2 separate regions of the Homo sapiens genome follow, and region 1 is linked to region 2. The links come from fine-mapping of genetic effects on gene expression. Tissue or cell type: hypothalamus. Region 2 holds a variant in brackets; the other region holds the start of a gene. All regions are shown on one strand. Distances are between the middles of the regions.

Region 1 (8,103 bases), 480 kb after region 2:
GTGGTGTGATTACAGGTGTGAGCCACCACGCTCGGCCTCCTTTACTTTCTTTTTTCTTTTTCTTTTTTTTTGAGATGGAGTCTTGCTCTGTTGCCCAGGCTGGAGTGCAGTGGTACGATGTCGGCTCACTGCAGCCTCCACCTTGCCTCCTGGGTCCTGGTTCAAGCAATTCTCCTGCCTCAGCCTCTGGAGTAGCTGGTATTATAGGCGCACGTCACCACGCCCAGCTAATTTTTGTATTTTTAGTAGAGGTGGGGTTTCACTATGTTGGCCAGGCTGGTCTTGAACTCCTGACCTCGTGATCCACCCCCCTCAGCCTCCCAAAGTGCTGGGATTACAAGCGTTAGCCACCACGCCCGGCCCCTTTACTTTCTTAATAAACTCATTATCGGCTGGGTGCCGTGGCTCATGCCTGTAATCCCAGCACTTTGGGAGGCCGAGGCAGGTGGATCACCTGAGGTCAGGAGTTCAAGATCAGCCTAGCCAACATGGTGAAACTCCACCTCTGCTAAAAATACAAAAATTAGCTGGGTGTGGTGGTGTGCGCCTGTAATCCCAGTTACTCAGGAGGATGAGGCAGGAGAATCACTTGAACCCAGGAGGCGGAGGTTACAGTGAGCTGAGATTGCCCCACTGCACTCCAGCCAGGGTGACAAGAGCAAAACTCTGTCTGAAAAAGAATAATAAATAAATAACTTGTTTTCACTTTATTGTATGGACTTGCCCCAAATTCTTTCCTGCACGAGATCCAAGAACCCTCTCTTGGGGTCTGAATCAGGACCCTTTTCCTGAAACAGTAACACCACCCAGATCAGGGCACAGAACATTATTACCTATCCTGAGAGGTGTCTTTGTGCCTTCTTCCAGGTACACCCTCCCCTCAAAGAGTAACCAGTATCCTGACTTCTAACACCATAGACTAGTTTTGCCTAACCTTACATAGTTTTTAAAATTGTAGGTGAATACAGAATCTGGAGCTACAGGACTTAGGGTTAGATCCCTGGTTCCTGGCTGAGTGATCTTCAACAAGCCATTTAATTTCTGTCACACTCAGTTTTCTTCTCTGTATAATGGTCATAAAAATACCTTGTACTGGCCGGGTGCGGTGGCTCACGCCTATAATCCCAGCACTTTGGGAGGCTAAGGCGGGCAGATCACAAGCTCAAGAGTTCAAGACCAGCCTGGCCAATATGGTGAAACCCCATCTCTACAAAAATACAAAAATTAGTCAGTCGTGGTGGCATGCACCTGTAATCCCAGCTGCTCGGGAGGCTGAGGCGGGAGAATCGCTTGAACCCGGGAGGCAGAGGTTGCAGTGAGCGGAGGTTGGGCCACTGCACTCAAGCCTGGGCGACAGAGTGAGACTCAGTCTCCAAAAAAAAAAAAAGCAAATTCTCAGGCCCTGCCCCAGACCTACTGAATCAGAAACTCTAGGAGTGGCCTCAGCAACCTACAGTTTAACTAACTTTGCAGGCAATTCTGATAAGTACTGAGGTTTGAAAACCACTGCACTAGAGAAACTGAATGAGGATGGGGCGCAGGAATCTGTATTTTAGCAATCTTTCCTAAGGCATGTTGCAGGAAACATGAAGTGGTTTTGAAAGTACTTTGCTTGAGGCTTGAAGGCTTGAACCTAGGAGTTTGATTTTTTATTTTTTTTAGATGGGGTTTCACTCTGTCACTCAGGATGGAGTGCAGTGGCGTGATCTTGGCTCACTGCAGTCTCCGTCTCCTGAGTTCAAGCAATTCTCCCACCCCAGCCTCCCGAGTAGCTGAGATTACAGGGGTGTGCCATGCCCAACTAATTTTTGCATTTTTTTTTTTGAGACAGATTCTCGCTCTGTGGCCCAGGATGGAGTGCAGTAGCACGATCTTGGCTCACTGCAACCTCCGCCTCCCAGGTCCAAGCAATTCTCTGCCTCAGCCTCCTGACTAGCTGGGATTACAGGCACCCGCCACCACGCCCGGCTAATTTTTGTATTTTTAGTAGAGATAGGGTTTCACCATGATAGCCAGGCTGGTCTTGAACTCCTGATCTCGTGATCCGCCCGCCTTGGCCTCCCAAAGTGCTGGGATTATAGGCGTGAGCCACCGTGCCCGGTCTAATTTTTGCATTTTTAGTAGAGATGGGGTTTCACCATGTTAGCCAGGCTGGTCTTGAACTCCTGACCTCAGTTGATCCATCCGCCTCGGCCTCCCAAACCATGCCCAACAAATTTTTGCATTTTTAGTAGAGACAAGATTTCACCATGTTGGCCAGGCTGGTCTCAAACTCCTGACCTCAGGTGATCCACCCGCCTCAGCCTCCCGAAGTGCTGGGATTATAGGAGTGAGCTACTGCGCCCAGCCTTTATGTTTCTTTTGTTGTTTGTTTTTTGAGACAGAGTCTCGCTGAGTCGCCCAGGCTGGAGTGCAATGGCGTGATCTTGGGTCACTGCAACCTCCCCCTCCTGGGTTCAATCAATTATCGTGCTTCAGCCTCCCAAGTAGCTGGGATTACAGGCACCCGCCACCACACCTGGCTAATTTTTGTGTTTTTAGTAGGGAAGGGGTTTCACAAGGCTAGGCGTGGTGGCTCACCCAACTCTACTAAAAATACAAAAATTAGCCAGGCGTGATGGCATGCGCTTGTAGTCCCAGCTACTTAGGAGGCTGAGACAGGAGAATCACTTGAACCCAGGAGGCGAGCGGAGGTTGCAGTGAGCCAAGATTGCGCCACTGCACTCCAGCCTGGGCGACAGAGCAATACTCTGTCTCAAAAAAAAAAAAAAAAAAAAAAAGAGACGGGGTTTCACCATGTTGGCCAGACTGGTCTCAAACTCCTGACCTCAAGTGATTTGCCTGCCTTGGCCTCCCTAACTCCTGGGATTACAGGTGTAAGCCACTGACCCTAGCCAAGCCTAGGAGTCTGAGAACAGCCTGGGCAACACAGGGAGTCCACGTCTCTACAAAAATAAAAACAATTAGGATAGTGTGGTGGCTTGAGCCTGGAGTCCCAGCTACTCAGGAAGCTGAGGTGAGAGGATCACTTGAGCCCAGGAGGTTGGCTGCAGTGAGCTATGATTGCACCGCTGCACTCCAGGTTGGGTGACAGAGCAAGACTCTGTCTCAAAAAAAAAAAAAAAAAAAAAGTCACTTTGAAAAATGTGACTTTCCAGATGGCAAAATACTATTTTCATTAGGAGGAAACAGGCTAAACAGTAATAGCAAAGGTCACTAAGTATTGAGCACTTAGTCATACCTCTGAGTCTCTGCCTGCATAGCCTATTATTTCTCACAAGCAATCCATGAAGAAGGTTAAGACAACGGACTTTCACGCCAGACTGCCTGGGTTCTTATCAAGTATGTGACTTAGTTTATATATTTGTAAAATGGGGATAATAATGGTATTTCTGTAATAGGTTTGTTGTGAGAATAAAGGGAGCTTGGTATCAGCTCTTAGAATACCGGACAGGCCACGTTGGCTCCACTAAGCTGTTGTCATCATCCCTAAGGGCACCCAGTTAAAAGGTAGAAAAGGGAGGATTTGAATCCGGTCAGTGTAACTCTCAAGTGTACATTTTTTTTCTTTTATTTTCTTTTTAACCACGCCCTTTAATGTACATTGTTAAAGGCTAAGCCAGGCCAGGTGCAGTGGCTCACATCTGTAATCTCAGCGATTGGGAGGCCCGAGGAGGGAGTATCGCTTGAGCCCAGGAGCTGGAGACCAGCCTGGGCAACATGGCGACACCGTGGCCCTATTCCCGCCCCATCCCATCCGCACTCCACCCCATCCCCATCTCTACAAAGAATAGAACAAAATTAGTCGGGTGTGGTGGTGCTCAACTGCTGTCCCAGCTACTCAGGAAGCCCAGGTGGGAGGCTCGCTTGAGCCCAGGAGTGTGAGGCTGTAGTGAGCTATGACTGCACCACTGCACTCCAGCCTGGGTGAAGGGTGAGACCTTATCTCAAAAAGAAGAAAAAAAAAGAAAAGGAAAAGAAAAAGAAAAAAGAACAACTAAGTTATAAACTAAGCTATATAGCCCATTGGTTCTCAAATTATGATTTCACTCACTAGCAGTATCACTAGACAGCTTGTTGGACATGCAAATTATCAGACCCTATCCTCCTATGCCAGATCTTCTGATCAGAAACTCTGGGGGTGGGGGTCAGCAGTGTAAGTTTTAATAAGCTCTCTAGGTGATTCTGATGCACACCATAGTTTGAGAATCACAGTCCTTATAGGCTCTGGTGGGCGGGGTGTTAAAAAAAAAAAAAAGCCTGGAGGTGCTGGGAGCCGCTCGCGCCCATCTCACCTGGAGCTGAGGAAAACTGGGATTTAACTGATTTACCACCGCAGCCAGCTCTTCAAGCCAGGGGCGGGCCGGACGGCTGGCGCGCAAGGCCTGCTGGGGCTTGTAGTCTAGACCACTTCCGCGCTCAGGCGCCTGCGCTTTAGCTGCTAACTCGCTCTAGTAGCTGTGGTCGGGGCTCGGGACCGGCTGCCATCTTAGTCTAGGGACTGAGGAGTCGCCGCCGCCCCGAGTCCCGGTAAACCCCCGTGGGCGAACTCGGGGCAGTTCTCGGGAGAGGGAGGGAGTCCGGATGAGAATGTTCGGGGAGAACAAGGGTAGAGGAGTGGGACGCGCGGTTCGGGACCCCAGAGCCGCGGCTGCTCCTTCTTCCAGAGCCGGTGTCTGTCGGGGGCGCGGGGAGCTCGGGCTACTGGCCCGGGCCGGGCGGTGGGGGTGGGCTGTCTGGACGTTCGGAGGGATCAGTGTCTGGCACAGGCTTCCGGAGGCCTTCGCCTCGCGGGCTCCAAGTTGTGAAAGGGCTGGGCCACGACGGGCGTGGGTACCGTCCGGCCCCTCGCCCCTCAGCCCCGCCTGGGGCCACTCTCCAGCGGTTCGGCCTACGCGCGGGGCCCGGCGGCGGGGCCGGCGCGGGCGACGTGGCCCTGTGAGGGGCGGCGGCCGGGTCCCCCGCCACCCAGCTGGCCTTCTCGAGACTTTTCCGAGCCCCCAGTCGCTAGAAGGGCCCAGCACAGCGGCTGCCTCCCCTTCTCTCTCCCACTCGCCTCCTCCTTCCATTGTCCCCCCGGCGTGGTGGTCCCGGCTCCGGCGCCCTCCCCGACGTCCGCCACCGTCGTGGCGGCGCCGACTTTTGCAGACGTGGAGCTGTCACTGCCCTTCCTCCGGAGAGTGCCCTTTTCTTTAGCAGAGAAAAGAAAAAAGTAGCCGTTGAACGTATTCTAAGGGTCGAAGCATGATGACATGACTTTTAAGTGGAGAACTCAAGTTTTCCAAGACAGTTCCCGTCCGCGACAGAAAAGAGAATCGCAGAATTTGTGCGCCCGAAGTAGACGCTGGGCCTAAAGTTAGTTGGACATGTAACCAGGTGAACTTGTAAAGGGCCAGGAATTCATTATCCCCAATAACAACGCAACCTTGTTTTCTTGGTTGTATTCGTATCCTAATCTTATTACATTTTCTGCCATTCTTCCACAGCTACAGTATACTTGGTTTGGAGTGGGGGATGGGGAATTGTGGGATTTTTGCCTTGAAAATTAGTAAGACCCTGGAGCCAGCCACCCACTTAGGTGGGTTCTCCTGCATCTTTTCCTGATAGAATTCGATCTTCAGGAAGTATGTAAAGGCAGTGTATTTCCATTCTCAAAATCGGCTAAGGAATGGTTTATCAGTTGAGGTGAAGTTCTCATGGCAGATCTGCTGAGAGCTTGCTATGTGTATTTACAGGTTTATTTAAGCTACGATTTATTTTTAAAATTAAGAAATGGGCCGGGTGCTGTGTGTGGCTCACGCCTGTAATCCTAGCACTTTGGGAGGCCGAGGCGGGCAGATCATGAGGTCAGGAGTTCGAGACCATCCTGACCAACATGGTGAAACCCCGTCTCTACTAAAAATACAAAAAAAAAAAAAAAAAAATCCTGGGCGTGGTGGCGCGCGCCTGTAGTCCCAGCTACTAGGGAGGCTGAGGCAGGAGAATGGCTTGAACCCGGGAGGTGGAGGCTGCAGTGAGCCGAGATCTCGCTGCTGCACTCCAGCCTGGGCGACAGAGCGAGACTCCGCCTCAAAAAAAAAAAAAAAAAAAAAGCAATGGGATGGGTGTGGTGGCTCACGCCTGTAATCCCAGCAATTTGGGAGGCCGAGGTGGGCGGATTACGTGAGCCCAGGAATTGGAGATCAGCCTGGGCAACATCGTGAAACCCCGTCTCTACAAAAAATACAAAGATTTGCCGGGTGTGGTGGCAGGCGCCTGTGGTCCCAGATACTCAGGAGGCTGAGGTGGGGGAATCACCTGATTCCGGGGGGTCGAGGCTGCGGTGAGCTGTTACCGTTGCCACTGCATTCCAGCCTGGGTGACAGAGTGAGACCCTGTCTCAAAAAATAAAAAAAAAAATTTAGAAATGAAGGTGGAAATTCTACTGCTTCTTTGAACTGTGAATTTAAGTTTTGTGAGTCCAAAAGGAATTCCATTACATTCAGCATACAGGTCAAGTCACCAAGGATATCATATGAAATTAAAAAAATGAGTACAGACTACTTCTTCAGTGTATTCTAGAATCAAACATTTCTACATTCTTTAGAAAAAAATACATCTTTTTCGTTTGTTTGAGACGGAATCTAACTTTGTCACCCAGGCTGGAGTACAGTGGTGTGATCTCGGCTTACTGTAACCTCCGCCTCCCGGGTTCCAGCAATTCTTCTGCCTCAGCCTCCGTAGTAGCTGGGACTACAGGCGCGTGCCACCACTCCCGGTAATTTTTTTGTATTTTTTAGTAGAGATGGGTTTTCACCATATTGGCTAGGCTGCTCTCGAACTCCTGACCTCGTGATCCACCTGCCTTGGCCTCCCAAAGTGCTGGGTTTACAGGCATGAGCCGCCACTCCTGGCCCTAAAAAATACATCTTTTCACTTATTGGGAGAGGCAGACAAACCAGTAGTCCCCAAATTTGACCATTAGAATAATTAGGAGAGCTTAGAAATTCCAGGGTCTTACCTTCTGAGATGGATTTAGTAGGTCTGGGTTGGCTTCAACCAATTTATTTTTAACACATGCCTTAGGTAATTCTGATGGTCTTGGGAACCACTGAGGGCAAATGGTACTGTAGACTTACCAAGGAAAGGTCAAAAAGCTTTGAGACGAAAGAGGAAGTGGCCAATTCTGTGTGTGTGGCTGGGTGGAGGATTGGTTAGAAGAGGCAAGATTTGCCCCTGAACCCACATTGGGTCTTACATGAAGAGTAGGAGTGTGAAAAGGGCGGGGAAAGAGAAGGACAGGGTAGGCTGAGTGAATGCCTTAATGCTGTGTGTAAATTCAGAGGATTATGGAACAAAAAGGGTTCAGGGAGTGTGGAGTGGAATGGGGAAGGAGAGCATTTTGAAACGCAAGGTCAGAAAGGTTAAAGGAAGCAAGTATATGAAAAGTGATTTTTTGTTGTTGAGACTGGGTCTCACCCAGTCACGCAGGATGGAGTGCAGTGACAGGACCTCCAGAGCTCAAGTGATCTTCCCACCCCAGCCTCCCTGAGTAGCTGGGACAACAGGCATGCATTAGCATGCCTGGCTAATTTTTAAAATTTTTTTGTAGAGAAAGGTTCTCTTTACGTTGCCCAGTCTGGTCTTAACTCCTGTGTTCAAGTGGTCCTCCCACCTTGGCCTCCTAAAGTGTTGGGATTACAGGTGTAAGCTACTGTGCTCTGGCTAAAAATTTTAAGTATAATGCTAAAAATTTGGAATTTTATGTTGGTAGAAATAGATACAGGGCTGGGCTCAGTGCCTCACACCTGTAATCTCAACAGTTTGGGAGGCTGAGGCGGGTGAATCGCTTGAGCTCAGGAGTTTGAGACCAGCCTGGGCAACATGGTGATATCCCGTCTTTACCAAAAGGAAGGAAAAAAAAAAGAAATAGATGCAGATTTTTCGACAGGGAAATGATGTGAGTACATATGTGTTTTAGAAAATTGCTGTGTACTGCAGGACAAAGATAGGTATCAAAAAACAAAAAAAGAAAGATTGCTCTGGTGATGAGCGAAAGGATGAGGGACTAGCTATTGCAGAAGTCTAGTTGAGAAATGACAAAGCCTGACCTTGGAGAGAGGT
Region 2 (8,103 bases):
AAGAAGTAGAGCAAGTGGGTGTAGAGTTGTTAACATGCAATGTCTGCCACATAAAACATGATCCCCATTTTGGTGAGGAAATCACAGCCTGGAGAGGTGTGGTGATTTACACAGCCTGGATTCGATTGCACTGAGCCTGCCCCACCCTCACCCTGCTCTGATTCAGGGACCCTGGCCTGGCCCTCATCTTTGGTGGTTGCTGTCGTCAAGGCACTGGCCTTGCGTGATGGATGAGCAGGCAGCCTCATTAAACACAAACCCTTGTTGGTTTCCCAAAGCCCACAGGAGCAGCGAGGCCCGGGATCTGGGAGCAGGGAAGCTGAACAGGACCCCATCTGTCCTGTTCCCTCCGGCTTCTGCTCAAACAGGCATTTGTCTGCCATGGCAAGAGGGCAGCCTCAGACACTTCATCTCTGGGCAATTAGGGGGCTGCACGTGAGAAGAGTAATGACTGGCCAGAGGGGATTTATCAGGGGCCAGTGTGGCTGGGCGGGGCTCAAGATTTGACATCCACCTCTTTTCCGAGGGGAAGGAGCTGGTTAGCATCCCTGCCTGGCAGTGGAGCCTCGTTAGCTCTGCCTTCTACTGTCCCTTCCCCCTCCAACGCTCTGCTCCCCACCCCACCTCCTTGTCTCTGCCCTAGATCAGAGGCCAGGCACTAGCTGGATGGTCACACCTGCCTCCTCCATGCTGCCCCCTGTGAACCACTCTCCGCACTGGCTGCTCACAAGTCTGATCACGTCACACACCTCCTCCCTACCTTTAAATCCTTCCATGGCTCCCTACTGCCCAAATCATAAGCAGCTGTTGTGTTCGGGTGGTCCTAGGTGACCAGCTTCCCCACGAGCGATTTCTCTCCTTTGGTTTGATTCGTGTCAAAGATGAGTCTTAGACACTGCCTGATGCTCAAACGGTTTATCCTTTTCTTAAAAAAAAAAAAGATGGGATCTTGCTGTGTTGCCCAGGCTGGTCTTGAACTCCTGGCCTTAACCCATCTTCCTCCCTTGGCCTCCCAAAGTTCTGAGTTACAAGCATGAACCATGGTGCCCGGCCTCAAGTGATTTATTTTGGCTGTGCTGTTACGAGACAGACATCAATGACACGGGCCAGATACACTTAGGAGGTCAGAGGACCAGCTGACCAGGAGGGTCTCTGTGTAGAGACCATCCTCAGAGTTTGGGGGATCCTTCTCCCTTCCCTAGACCTGGGTTCAGTCTAGGTTAGTCGCCAGGTGTTTCTTTCAAAAAAGAAGTTTAAGCTATTCTTGTAAGGGGAAGCTTTGTTTCAAGGTTTATGAAAGTTGCATCTGTGCTGAGGTGGTCTTGTTTTCTGGAAATCCCCTGGCCAGGGTTGGAAATCCTGGGGCCAGGCTGTATCAACTGCTAAGTGACACCTGGTGTCCGGCCTGTGAGATGCTTAAGTGGGTCCTATGGCTCTTGTTAATCTCACAGTTGCAGTATGTCTCTTTTTATACTATGACAGCAACCTCAGCCCTGGTGACCTCAGCTCCCGCGCCGCATCCTCTGTACTCTTGCTCTTCAATTTTTAAGAATGAGTTTCATGATTATGGGTTTCAAAAATTACATTCAGGACTGCGTGTGGTGGCTCATGCCTATAATCCCAGCACTTTGGGACGCCAAGGTGGGTGGATCACTTGAGGTTAGGAGACCAGTCTGGTCAACATGGTGAAACCCTGTCTCTACTAAAAAAAATAAAACTTAGCAGGGCGTGATGGTGCACACCTGTAATTCCAGCTACTCAGGAGGCTGAGGCAGCAGGATCACTTGAATCTGGGAGGTGGAGGTTGAAGTGAGCCGACAACATGCCACTGCACTCCAGCCTGGGTGACAGAGTGAGACTCCATCTCAAAACAAAAACAAAAACAAAAACAATTCAAAAGGCACACAGTAAAACAAGGCTAACTCCTGCATCGTCCTCACCTGCCTAGTCCCCATCACCTGCCACATGCCTTAGTTCCTTGTGTATCCTTCCAGTTTCTTTATGCAAATGTAAATAGGACAAATATGTCGTCATATTTACCACCCCCACACATGCTTTATATACAAATGGTAGCTTATCAGGAACGTGGTTCTATACTTTCATTTTTGCACTTAATACATCTTGGAGATCTTTTTGTATCTGCAGAGAGAAGGCTGCTTCATTCTCTGGTACAGCTTGACCATCATTTCCTTAGCCAGCTCCCAGGTAGTGGATGTTTGTGTGGCAGGTGCTGCTGCTGCCCTGTCCCATATCTCCCACCTACCAGAGCTCACCAGCAGCCCTTTCATTTCTCCAGGCTTTAGCCCACACAGGTCTCTCTGCCTGGGATATGCTTCTGCTTCTTCATCTCAAATCAAGAGTCTGGCAGCCCCGCCAGAGACACTAACCTAACTAGTTCAGGCAGGGCTAGCACTTTGGGCCTCAGGGTCTCCCTTACCTCCTCTGCCTCAGGAATGATCACAGTGGATTAAATCCTCTCCTTATCTGCCTGCCTGGCTGGGAGCACCTGGGCAGGGGTCAGAGCTGTGGGGGGGCAATGGGGAAGATGAGTCAGATTCATCACTATGTCCCAGCACCTCTTACCACATCCCATGGCCTCTAGTGAAGCAGGAGAAGGATTGTATAAAATCCAAACTCCTTCCCGTGGCCTACAAAGCCCTGCTGACCCCGTCCCTGCCTGCCATCACCCCCAACCTCAGGTCCAGCCAGTGTGGCCTTCTTGTTCCTCAGAGACCTCAAACTCGATCCTGCCTCAGGGCTTTTGTTCTTATACTTTCCTCTACTTGGACTCTCTTTTCCCCAGATCTCCTGATTAGACCTCAGCTCAAATGACACTTCCTCCAAGAGGCCTTCCCTGACCACCTTGACTAAAATATCCTACTCACCCCTGCCAACTTTGGGAACCCAAGGCAGGAAGATCAGTTGAGGCCAGGAGTTCAAGACCAGCCTGGGCAACATAGTGAGATCCCATCTTTGAAAAAAAAAAAAAAACACCCCCACTTTCTTAGCAGTTATGGGATGAATTGTGTCCTTCCCAAAGTTTATAGGTTGAAGCCCTAACCCCGAGTACCTCAGAATGTCACTGTGTTTGGAGATAAGGTCTTTAAAGAGGTGAATAAGTTAAAATGAGGCCAGTAGGGCTGGGTCTTAATCCAATCTGAGTGGTGTCCTTTTTGTTTGTTTGTTTGTTTGTTTTGTTTTGTTTTGTTTTTGAGACAGAGTCTTGCTCTGTCTCCCAGGCTGGAGTGCAGTGATGCGATCTTGGTTCACTGCAACCTCTGCCTCTGGGGTTCAAGCAATTTTCCTGCCTCAGTCTCCCGAGTAGCTGGGACTAACAGGCACGTGCCACCACTCCC[G/A]GCTAATTTTTTTTTTGTATTTTTGGTAGAGACAGGGTTTCACCATGTTGGCCAGGCTGGTCTTGAACTCCTGAGCTCGTGATCCACCCATCTCGGCCTCCCAAAGTGCTGGGATAACAGGCGTGAGCCACTGTGCCCGGCCTGGTATCCTTTTTAAAAGGGGGAAGCAACACAAGGGATGAGGGTGCACAGAGGGAAGGCCGTGTGAGGACATGGGGAGGAAAGCCGAGGAGGGAGGCCTCCAAGGAAACCCTGCGGGTGCCTTGGTCTTGGACTTGCTGCCTCTGGAACTGTGGGAAAATAAATTTCTGTTATTTGAGCCAGGGGTCCTCAATCCCCTGGCCATGGACCAGTACTGGTCCATGGCCTATTAGGAACCTGGCACACAGCAGGAGGTGAGTGGCTGGTGAGGGAGAGAAGCTTCGTCTGTATATACAGCCGCTCCCCATCACACGAATGGCTGCCTGAGCTCTGCCTCCTGCCAGATCAGCGGCAGCATTAGATGCTCACAGGAGTGTGAACCCTGTTGTGAACTGTTCATGCGGGGGATCTAGGTTGCATGCTCCTTATGAGAATCTAATGCCTGATGATCTGTCACTGTCTCCCGTGACTCTCAGATGGGACCATCTAGTCGCAGGAAAACAAGCTCAGGCTGGACCTGGTGGCTCACGCCTGTAATCCCAGCACTTTGGGAGGCCGAGGCAGGTGGATCACGAGGTGAGGAGTTTGAGGCCAGCCTGACCAACATGGTGAAACCCTGTCTCTACTAAAAATACAAAAATTAGCAGGGCACGGTGGTGAGCGCTTGTAATTCCAGCTACTCAGGAGGGTGAGGCAGGAGAATTGCTTGAACCCAGGAGGCGGAGGTTGCAGTGAGCCAAGATCGCGCCATTGCACTCCAGCCTGGGCGACAGAGAGAGACTTCGTCTCAAAAAAAAAAAAAAAAAAGGAACACAAGCTCAGGGCTCCCACTGATTCTACATTATGGTGAGTCATATAATTATTTCGTTGTATATTACAGTGTGGTAATAATATAAATAAAGTGTACAATAAATATAATATGAATCATCCCCAAACCATCCCCCCCACTATCCATGGAAAAACTGTCTTCCACGAAACCCGTCCCTGGTGCCAAAAAGGTTGGGACCACTGATTTAAGCTACCCAGTCTGTGGTACTTTGTTATGCAGCCTAAGCTGACTCTACATCTTCCAGCGCATTTCTTCCAATGCACTGTCTGACATGACTTGTTTACTGTCTGCCTCCCCGTACAAGGGCAAGTCATTTAATTGTCTTGCTCATGGTGTAGCCCCAGCTCCTACAACAGAGCCTGGTACATAGTAGGCACTCAATAAATACTCACAGGATGAATGAGCAAATGCCAATTCCATGAAGCAGAGAGTGTCATATGAAGATCCCCCCAACGCTCACAAGCACATGTGTGAATGCACCCACATGTGTGCTCAGACATGTACGTGGATAGCTGGGCGCTCACACACATGCATCCTGCCCTGCATCTTTGCCTCTGACCATGTCCACTTCATGGCAAGGGCCATGTACACAGCCTGCAGGCTCAGCGGATGGCATGACTGTGCCTGTTTCAAGCTGGCTGTGCCTCTGAGCTGCCCTCAGAAACCCACGCCTGGCGCTCCTGTCAGGAGTGTGCTTGGATGCTAGGCCTCCCAGAGGGGTCAGAAGATGGGGAAGAAGAATCTGTTTGCAAATGGAAATCAGAATAAGCTCTACCAGGCACAGAGAACAGGGAAGGCAGTGGGCAGAATATGAGTTTTCCCAGCCCCCCACTGGGGGTCAGAACAATCAGCGAGTTCCTTCTGTGCCAGCCACATGACAAGTACATTATGCCCTGTGAAGTGGTGGGTTATTCACTCCCATTTTACCGATGAGAACACAGGCTGGTGTATCCCAGCATTTTGGGAGGCCGAGGTGGGATGATTTCTTGAGCCCAGGAGGTCTGGTTTGCAGTGATCTGTGATTGTACCATAGCACTCCAGCCTGAGTGACAGAGTAAGTCCCTGTCTCTCTCTCTCTCTCTCTCTCTCTCTCTCTCTCTCTCTCTCTATATATATATATATATATATATATATATATATATATATATATATATATATATTTATGTACACACACACGGGATTGGAGAGACCAATTCAATACTCCCTCAGTATTTTTTTTTGAGATGGAGTCTCACTCTGTTGCCCAGGCTGGAATGAAGTGGCTTGATCTTGGCTCACTACAACCTCTGCCTCCCAGGTTCAAGTGATTCTCCTGCCTCAGCCTCCTGAGCAGCTGGGATTACAGGTCCCCCGCCACCACGCCTGGCTAATTTTTGCATTTTCATTAGAGACGGAGTTTCACCATGTTGGCAAGTCTGGTCTCAAACTCCTGACCTCAAGTGATCTGCCTGCCTTAGCCTCCCAAAGTGTCCCCCAGTATTTTATGGAGGCCCTAGGTATAACACTGATTGCTCACTTATTTTGTTGAAGCAGATGATATGGTGATTAAGAGCCTCAGCTTGGGAGCCAGACAGCCTGGGTTCAAATTCTTGCCCTGATAATTACTAGCTGTGTGATTTTGGGCAAATCACATCGCCTGTCTATGCCTTCCTTTCTTTATCTGTAAAATAGAGTTATAATGGTACCTACTTGCTTGAGTTAATACATGTACAGGGCTTCGAATGGGGCCTGGCATGTAGTAGGCACATTTCTTGAGCAATAAATGTTAGTCCTTATTCCTTATTTCTAATTGTATCAGGATGTTCCCACCGAATCCTGCTCCTCCTCCAGGGCTGTGCCAGCTGCCTCTCTTTCAGGCCAGACCTTGAACAATCTTTGCTGTAAGAAGGTATCACAAACTGGAAGGCTTACAGCTACAGGAGTGTATTCTGTTAGTGCTGGAGGCCAAAAGTCTGAAATCAAGGTGAGGGCCGGGCCTGCTCCCTCTGAAATCTTTCTTGCCTCTTCCTAGGGGGATCCTTCCTTGCCTCTGCCTAGCTCCTGGTGGTTTCCCAGCAATCCTCAGCGTTCCTTGGTGTGCGGGTGCGTAACTCCAGTCTCTGCCTTCCTCATCACAGGGCATTCTCCCTGACTTCACATAGCTGTCTCCTTAGAAGAACGCAGTTCTATCAGATTAGGGGCCCATTCTACTCAAGGATAGCCTCATCTTTAATTACTAATTAAACTTGCAAGGACACCATTCTCAAATCAGATCACATTCTGAGGTCCATATCTTTTTTTTTTTGAGGGGATTGGAGAGAACAATTCGACCCATAATAGCAAATCTCTCTTGTCCCTGGGGAAGCTGTGTCTTTAAAAAGAGCTAGATGGGGAATAAAGAGATTTCAAAGCCAACAAGAAAAATGGTCTTGAAGTGGATGCTCTGGTTCTCCGTGTCTCTGGTTTACTGGCTGGACTGAGCTCCCTGGGTAGTTTTATTCTCCGATCGCTGCCGTCACCCATATTCTGTCTTCCCTGTCCCTTCATGGGTTGTACGGACTGCCGATCACACTGGAGCATGAGGGAGTCCCGGCCAGTCTGGCCCAGTTGAAAGCCCCACCTCTCCTCTGGGTTAACATGGAGGAGGGAGGGCACAGGGAAAAGGTCTCTCCCCTAATAGCTTCCTGTTGGGGACTCCCTCACCTCTTGTGGCCAATGCCATCTCTCAGGCCATCCCTGACTGGCCATCAGGGATTTCTGTGTCATTAGGGCCGGATGGTGGCTCTGGCATGGGGTGCAGGTCCTTGGGGGATCCTTGGAGGCCTCTTTTCCTTGCATTCCCACAGCTGACTCTGTGTGCCCTCTTTTTCTCCCGTAGCTCCCCTTCCCTGCCTGTTTTCCTCTGGGCCCCCTTGCCTGGTCAGCAGCCCTCTTTGCTGGCAGAGCAGCAAGATGTCTCCCTCCCATGATGCCCTCTTGGCTCCTGGAAACCTCCCACTCCCTTGCTACCCAGTTGCTGGGGCTGGGGTGTGGGCTATTCCACGTGTCCTCTCTGCCTGCCCATATTTTTTCATAGTTCATTCATAGTTCTTCTCCCCAAAAAGAGAGGCATGAGAGCAGGGGAGCCTAGGCAGACCCTCCACTGGAGAATGAGGTGTTGGACCCTCCTAAATGCAGCTCTGCTTTCTGAGATTTCACTTGGAACCCCCTACATTTGGCTTGAATTGAGGAAGTGAGAGTCATTCTCCCTTCCCAGGGGAGGGAAAAGTCTTAGTGCCACCTGCCTTCTCCTCAGGCTGGGACACTTAACTCCAAAGACCTCCCCCAACTCCCCACCTGCTTATTTAAAGGGGGCCCAGGGGAGGTAGAAGAGCTGGTCTGGCTGCCCCTTAATAAGTCCTGAGGTGCCCCCCACCACCATCTTGGTGGTTATCTTGGAAAGGAGTTCAATGTCCTTTTGTCCTCTGCCCTGGGTCACATTGCACTTAACAACCCTTGGCATCTGCACTTCAGCGCATCCTCCATAACCTGAAGACTCCAGAAAGGAGGAAGGGCTAAAAGTATGGGATAAGCTACCCCCAAATTATTGGTGCCTCCTCTGTACCAACTTTGTAACAGGTGTTTGTCTCCATGGACCCACTGGATGCTCTGTGAGCTCCATGAAGGTCCCATTTTCCCAGGACCAGGCCTGGATCCTGGTACATTATATATACTCAAGAAAACATCTGTTGAGAGAGTGACTGTGGTGGCTTTAGTGGTTGTCCTAAGGTTTACAGTATACATATTTAATTTGTCAGA

Direction of the effects. Positions count from the first base shown, and alleles are read on the strand shown. Sizes are in standard deviations (SD) of each study's normalised expression.
In carriers of allele G in region 2, the expression in hypothalamus of the gene that starts at base 4,454 in region 1 tends to be higher than with A alone (moderate effect, 0.44 SD a copy in GTEx).

Evidence for each region. PIP is the estimated chance that this variant, and not a neighbour inherited with it, causes the effect.
Region 1: it holds the start of ITCH, and the variant in region 2 is fine-mapped to the expression of ITCH in hypothalamus (GTEx, PIP above 0.99).

Annotation. Positions count from the first base shown.
Region 1 is chr20:34,358,820-34,366,922 of GRCh38, forward strand. ITCH (itchy E3 ubiquitin protein ligase) reads left to right here and starts at 4,454. Exons shown (of 25, transcript NM_031483.7): 1 at 4,454-4,530. RefSeq lists a silencer at 4,759-4,988.
Region 2 is chr20:33,881,964-33,890,066 of GRCh38, forward strand. No RefSeq gene overlaps it. Among named protein-coding and RNA genes, the nearest start is that of CHMP4B, 75 kb to the left of the region's middle. RefSeq lists enhancers at 1,240-1,359, 1,540-1,799. The variant G/A (reference allele first, on the strand shown) is at 3,357.